2 linked regions of the Homo sapiens genome follow. The protein of the gene in region 1 purifies or fractionates together with the protein of each later gene. This does not show direct contact. Each region holds a gene or a part of one and is shown in the gene's direction. Other genes may lie near its edges.

The links.
Region 2: the proteins of SMPDL3B (region 1) and FARSB fractionate together in Homo sapiens (co-fractionation; one large-scale study listed by BioGRID). This does not show direct contact.

Annotation. Positions count from the first base shown.
Region 1 is NC_000001.11:27,944,725-27,948,542, forward strand, and holds part of SMPDL3B (acid sphingomyelinase-like phosphodiesterase 3b isoform 1 precursor), read left to right. Parts: intron 1-507; coding exon 508-721; intron 722-3,818. UniProt on the Homo sapiens protein: Lipid-modulating phosphodiesterase. Active on the surface of macrophages and dendritic cells and strongly influences macrophage lipid composition and membrane fluidity. Acts as a negative regulator of Toll-like receptor signaling.
Region 2 is NC_000002.12:222,649,553-222,653,370, reverse strand, and holds part of FARSB (phenylalanine--tRNA ligase beta subunit), read left to right. Parts: intron 1-2,471; exon of another isoform or gene 2,472-3,085; intron 3,086-3,818.

The DNA of each region.
Region 1 (3,818 bases):
TTTTTTCTTTTTTTTTTTTTTTAATTTTCCAAGAAATTCCAGGACAGGTCAGATTTTCATATGTAGTTATATTTCCCTGCAGCATGAGAGGATATGGCTCTAGTTAATGGGCTTAGAAAAGTGACATAGCCCAGGTCACACAGCTCCTAAGTGGCTCAGAGCCTGAGCACTTAACCCATACCCTCTCCCGCCTTTGCTTTAAAACAAGCCCCCTCATTAGAATGCCTGAGCTCTAATGTTGTGGCTGCCCATCCAATGTGGGGAGGAGGACGGGGCCTTGCCAAAGGTCAGCGCTCAGGGATGGAGCTGAGCCTGTTCTGTGCTCTGCTCAATGTGTCCCTGGGCAGAGCCAGGCCTGTGGGCCTTTTCTCTGAACCCGGGGTGCTCAGAGAAGACTTCCATTTGCCTGTGTAACGCCCCTGCCCCAGCCCAGGGCTCCCCTGGACTTCCTTGCTTCCAGGCTGAGAGAGAGACCAGCTTTGAAGGAGGATGTTTTTTCCCCTGCAGGGAAGTTCTGGCACATCGCTGACCTGCACCTTGACCCTGACTACAAGGTATCCAAAGACCCCTTCCAGGTGTGCCCATCAGCTGGATCCCAGCCAGTGCCCGACGCAGGCCCCTGGGGTGACTACCTCTGTGATTCTCCCTGGGCCCTCATCAACTCCTCCATCTATGCCATGAAGGAGATTGAGCCAGAGCCAGACTTCATTCTCTGGACTGGGTGAGTACAGTTGAGGTGGCAGCTACCCTTTGCCAGGCATCTGCTATGTGCTACATACCAGTCTGGCCCTTTGCCCACATTATCTCCCTTAATCCTCACATCAGTCTCACGTGAGGCTGAGGAACCTAAAGCTCAAAGGAATTTTGTAACTTGCCCGGGGATTCCTGAGTCCAACTGATTCCACAGTCTGTGTCCTCGACCTCCATGTCTCCTGGCTGTGGCAGAACGCAGCTCTCAATCAGGCTTTTGGACGTGGTCCTGGCATGCCTGGGCACCCGGAGAGTGTCCAGGTTTTAAGCTATGGGTGGACACTGGAGCCATTTCCCCTGGGGCTTAGGGACTCTAAGTCTGAGAGGTCCAAGTGCAGGGAGGGAAGAAGTTATGAGGGCTGAAGGTGGCCCAGCCTGGGGTCCTAGTGTCCTGGCCAGCTGCTGGCCACCCCTGGGCTGCCCAGTGGTCCTGGATTTTCTCACCAGTCAGAGCTCTGCTCTACAGAGTGACAGCTTGAGGGCCGATCCCACTCAGCCGCAGAGACCCAGTTTCTGCTTCCTGTCCAAGGTTGCTGCTCTAATTCCTTCAACTTTCCTGGGAACTTGCCTCCTTATCATTCAAGATTCCCCCATTCCGGCTGGGTATAGTGGCTCATGCTTGTAATTCCAGCACTTTGGGAGGCCGAGGCAGTGGATCACCTGAGGTCAGGAGTTTGAGACCATCCTGGCCAACATGGTGAAACCCCGTCTCTACTAAAAATACAAAAATTAGCCTGGCGTGGTAGTGCACGCCTGTGGTTCCAGCTACTCGGGAGGCTGAGGCAGGAGAATCGCTTGCATTTGGGAGGTAGAGGTTGCAGTGAGCCAAGATCACACCACTACACTCCCAGCCTGAGTGACACAGCAAGACTCTGTCTCAAAAAAAAAAAAGAAAGAAAAAGAAAAAAAGATACCCCCATCTCCTCGCTTGCTCCCTCACTTGGCAGGGCAACAAGTCGTGCTCAGTTGTGGGGTAGATGCTAGGGATCTGAGATGATGGACACCCACACTTGGCTCCAAGGAGCTCACGTTCTTGTGGGCAATGCAGACAAACCCATTGACCCTACCCTTACATCCAAGCAAGGAGAGAGAGTCACCTGGGGGGATGTGGGAACTTCACAGGGCACATGATCCCATCTGGCAGGATTAGGGGAAGGACATCCTGCAGGAGGTGGTGGAGCAGGGGAGCTCTCGAGGAAGGCTGGAAGGAATTCTGACTTTGCGCTCCCTCTACCAGCCTCAGTGGACACTTCTATAAGGCAGGGTGAAACCCATGATGCCCCTAGCTGTGATGTGGTTTGTGGGTGTGACCAGGAAGGACCCTCAGATGAACCTGCCAGGCTGGACACATAAGAAGACATGTGACATTGTCTCAGGAGGGGCCTGGACAGCTCTGGCTTCCTTGGGCTCAGGAATCAATCTAAGAAGAGAGTGAGATTTGGTCCATGACCTTGGGCCTGCTCCCTTGAGGGGAGCTTCTGATTTCTCCGAGAAGGGAGAGCATGTGTAGCATTCAGACAGATGGGATCCCTCAGGAAATTCATGATCCTTTAACAGATGCACATTTTTTTTTTTTTTTGAGATGGAGTTTCGCTCTTTTTGCCCAGGCTGGAGTGCAATGGCGTGATCTTGGCTCACCACAATCTCCGCCTCCTGGGTTCAAGCGATTCTCCTGCCTCAGCCTCCCGAGTAGCTGGGATTACAGGCATGCGCCACCACGCCCGGCTAATTTTGTATTTTTATTAGAGACAAGGTTTCTCCATGTTGGTGAGAGTGGTCTCAAACTCCCGACCTCAGGTGATCTGCCCGCCTCAGCCTCCCAAAGTGCTGGGATTGCAGGCGTGAGCCACTGCACCCGGCCACAGTTGCACCTTTTTTTCCTGGGAAATCTCTGAGACCTTGAAGAGGTACACAGCATCAGATGAGAAGATCTCTAGGACCCTTTACAATTCTTCAATTATAATAAAATTTGACTTCTAAGAGAGCTGCAGTCCCTTTGAGGATGGCCATTAGAAATTAGGTATGTTTTACTACTCAGGAGGCTGAGGCAGGAGAATCGCTTGAACCTGGGAGACGGAGGTTGCAGTGAGCCGAAATTGCGCCACTGCACTCCAGCCTGGGTGACAGAGCGAGACTCCATCTCAAAAAAAAAAAAAAAAAGAAATTAGGTGTTTTTTTGTTTTTTTTTTTTAAGATGGAGTCTCGCTCTGTCGCCCAGGCTGGAGTGCAGTGGTGCGATCTCGGCTCACTGGTGCCCCCTACCACGCCTGGCTAATTTTTGTATTTTTAGTAGAGACAGGGTTTCACCATATTGGCCTGGCTGGTCTCGAACTCCTGACCTTATGATCCGCCTGCCTCGGCCTCCCCAAGTGCTGGGATTACAGGCGTGAGTCACCGCCCCCGGCCTAGGTGTGTTTTTTATCAGACAGAATTAGATTCTCTAACCTAGAAATTAAAAATATGAAATTTTGTCCCTGTGTCTTTGGGTTTCCGGCCTGTCCCCAGGGAGTTTTCAGGGCAAAACAGCCCCTCTTGCTGCCCTAATGTGGGTATCAGAGACACTATAGGATGCAGTGGCTGTGAGCATAGACTCTGGGGCCAGGCTGACTGGGCTCAAATCTTGGCCCCACCACTTTCTAGTGGTGTACACTTAGGTACAATTTTTCCCCCGTGTCTCTGGTGCTTGATTTAGGATAGGCAAAATTCTTAACTTTTCTGTGTCTTGGTTTCTTTATCTGTCAAACGGGCCTAAACTAATAATAGAATTTACATTGCAGTGTTATAATGGGGAAAAAATTAGTGGCTGTGGCAACAACACACAGAAAGTGCCTGGCAGAAAGTCAGCCGGTGTGAGCTTCTAGCAGCAGTATTAATACTATTATGCTAATTAGTTTCCCTGGGGGAATACCTGGGCAGCAGAGGCCCCAGGATTTTGACTGTCCGGACGTCTCCCCATCCCTACACTCCACCTGCCACCATTCTCCTCCCCTTGCCAAGCATTTCTAAGGTGGACCCAAGAATTTTGATTCATGGCATGAAGGGCACAGTGGTCCCAGGGCAGAATCAGT
Region 2 (3,818 bases), on another chromosome or scaffold:
ACATTCTCTCTCTTTAGTCCCTCCAAGGGTTGCTTTCTATTTGAAATTCCATTGTTTCTACCAGTCCCCACCTTCCTTTTTACCACCTCTTTGCTTAGCAAGGATATTTCTCTTTCAAGCTGTTTGCCATTTTGGTTATTTTGCTCTTCTGACTCCTTTGGAGCAGTTTTGTCTCCTTAGTCTACCTTTTCAACGGACTTTCTGTGCAGATGGTTTCCTCTTGCCACTCCTTTTCTTGTTAACTGATTTATTATCACTGCTCTTCAATTATAGTCCTGTTCTGGCGTGGTGTAATAGCTGGCAGTAGTGGCAGAACCTTCTGTGTATATCATATACACCCCTAAGGTGTGGTTACTTGATGTGTCATTTCGTTAGAGGAAATTAGTAATCACGATTTTATTGTTGATTTTTCTTTGTATAGAAACCCATGAAATAACAGCTGAAAGGAATAAAACATATGATAATTAGGATTCAGCGTATTTTAATAGTTCTGTACCACTTAGTTATCTATTACTGCATACTAAATTATCCCAAAGTTTAGCATCTTAAAGCAGCTATCATTTGTTATATAGTTTCTGAGGGTCAGGAATTGGGGACTGGCTTAGCTGGGTGGTTTTTGCTCTGGATCTGTTACCAGATTGCAGTCAAGGTGTTTGCCAGATCCGTAGTCATCTCAAGGCCTAACTGGGTCTGGAGAAACTGCTTTCAGGTTCATTCAAGTGGTTGTTGGCAAACCTCAGTTCCTTGCTGATTTTTGGCCATAGGCTTTAGTTCCTCCCACCTTATCCTCTCCATAGGACTACTTAGCACATGTTAGCTTGTTTGCCCCAGATGGAGAGGTCCGAGAGAGTAGGTAAGTAAGAGAGTGCCGAGGATAGACGCCTGTTTTCAATAACAGCTCAGAAGTGATACACTAGCCCTTCTCATATTCTCTTGATCACAGACCAATCCTAGCACAATGTGGAAGGGAACAGTACAAGGGTGTGAATACCAGGAGGCCGGTATTATTGGAGCCCATCTTGGAGGCTGACTACCACCGTTTCCCCTCTAACCTCCACTGATTCAGTTCCTCCCATATGCAAAATATACTCACCCCCTCCCAAGGCCCTCAGAAGTGTCATCCCATTACAGCAGCAGCTCAGAATCTAGAATCTCATCATCTAAATCAGGACCAGATGTGGATGTGGCTCCTTGGGTGTAGTTCCTTCAGTATAGCTTCTTTAGTACACTGTTGGCCTGAGAGACTCGAGAGACCATTTATCTGCCCCACATATACCTAACATACAGTGGTGGGATGGGCATAGGATAACTCCTGTAGCCCTTCCACTTCAAAGGGGCGGAAATGGGAGACACAAAGGAGTCATTGGTCCATGGCAATTCTGGAATCAAGTGGCAAATGTTGGATGTTCTTGATTAGGTCTGAAGGCCTGGAATAATTCTCCATGGCTGTCTGCCCTGCCCTCTAGGCTCTTGGTTTCCACCCCTCTGAGTGATCCCTAGAAAGCATGTGCTTTACAGCTGGTTGGTTTTCTCAGTCTACTTACTGCTAATAGAATTTTGAGAGTTCAAAGACTTTATTTTATCCTATTTCTATCCCTTTCAATTCTAGCTGGCAATGCTTCTGCATATGTATTTCTTCTAAAAACTTGGAAGGTCTTTGGTGCATGTTACTGGCTTCCATTTTATTAGTCAAAAGCCACACCACCTACACATCTCTGAAATATATTGAGTTTCTGCTGATAACAGTGCTCTTAATTAAGCCCTATTGTGTGATTAATTGGATTTATGAGGTGCATTCTTTATAATTTTTAATAGCACCCTTTGTTGGAATGATTAGTGCCTTTGATCTTTCTGGGTCTTAAGATTTTATGGTCATATCCTTGATTTTATCTTTGGACCATGTTTTCCTGGCAGTGCCTTGGATTTGGTCTTTGCTCAGAAGTTATTTCTTAATTTTAGCATTGTTTCACATCTGGAGAAGATGAGAATTTTTTAAATCCCCAACATCCTGGCTCATTTTTGTTTAACAGCCTTTCCTTTAGCTTATCTCTTTTTTTCACATAAGCACAAGAAAAACCCAGGTGGCACTGTGAACACTGGTTGGAAATCTTAGTTACATCACCCCATTGATTTTTTACAGTCCACATTACTGCAAGGAATGGTGTTGCTAAGCCTTCCGCCTCTTCTTAACCAGGATTCCTCTTCTTCTGCTTTCTGATAACATTACCTCACTTTCCTCCATGTCCTCACCTGCATCCTTACCAAAGACTATGAGGCTTCTTTCTTGAGGTTTTCATTTACACGCCTCAAAGCCCACTGCTTGGTTCCAAAGCCATTCCCATGTTTTTCATTTTTGTTACAGCAGTACACCACTTCCAGGGACTAAAGTCTGTATTAGTAATCTATTGCTATGTAACAAATTATTCCAAAGTATTAGTAGTCTGTTGCTACGTAACAAATTACTCTGGTACTTAGGAGTGTAAAACAAGCCTTTATTATTTTACAAAATTTCTGAGAGACAGGAATCGGGGAGTAGCTTAGGAAGGTGGTTCTGGCTTTGGGTCTCACCATGTTGCAGTCTAGCTGTCAGCTGGGGTTGCTGTCATTTCAAGGCTTGGCTGGGCTGGAGAATCTGCTTCCAGACTCACTCAGGTGATTGCTGCAGACCTCAGTTCACACAGGAGCATGAATACAAGGAGGCAGGGATCATGGAACAGGCCGTCTTGGAGGCTGGGTACCTATTACTACCTGCCCTAGTTAATGATATCCCCACCCATTTTTTCCCCCAAACCAGAGATCGGGGAGTCATCTTAGACTCCTTCTACACACTCCCTATTCCTACCTCCCATCATTCGGCCATCGAGCCTTATACATTCCACCTCTTTAACGTTTTTCATATTAATCCCTTCTTCCTCATTCTTGCTGGTGCTGCTTTAAATGAAGTCTTCACTATCGCATCTGTACTATTGCAGTAGACTCCCTGCTCCAATCCATCCTCTACTCTGCGAGCAGTCTTTAGAATGCAGATCTAATCATGTTTTTGCCCAGCCGAAGAATCCCTTCAGTATAATTCTCCATTGCCTGCCTGTAAGAAAGAGGGCAAATTGTTAGTTGACCCCTTTCTCCTTGTTCCATCATATCTTCTGATATGAACTTTATGTTTCATCCATGTTGAACTACTTAAGAGTTTCCAAATTTGCCATGCTGTTTCACGCCCCACAATCTCTGCCTAACGAACTCATCCTTTCTGTGAAGGTTTAGCTGACCATAAGAGAAACTGATTACTTCTTTTGTGCCAGCCCTGTACCTTGTACTTAACACAGTCATATTTATTTACACATCTGGCTTCTTTACTAGATGAGGAAGTAGTTAAGGCAGGAATTGTGTTTTATTTATCTTTGTAACCCTGGTACCTAGTACAGTGCCTGGTATAAGGTGGGTACTCAGTACATAGATGTTAAATTGAAATTTAGTGTCTGAATCAGGAATCTTAAGACCAGTTTTCGCTAGAATATACTGCTAATGATGTTTTGTGTTCAATTTTTGGTAATGTGAGAACCCTGAAAAGCTAAACAGTAGGATATAATATTAAAATAAGGAAGAGAACTTATTTTATTAATTGCTAATAAACTATTAATTATTGTAGACTCACTGTGTCTCAGGGTACTATGCCAGGTCCATTTTATGCATTAGCATTTAAATCTTTCCAATAGTACCATGCCATAATGGCTGTGAAATACCATTTTATAGATGAGGCAGCTGTAATGTTGACACAAGATACCAAGAAAGTTTACATAAGGTGCCAAACTCTCAGATCT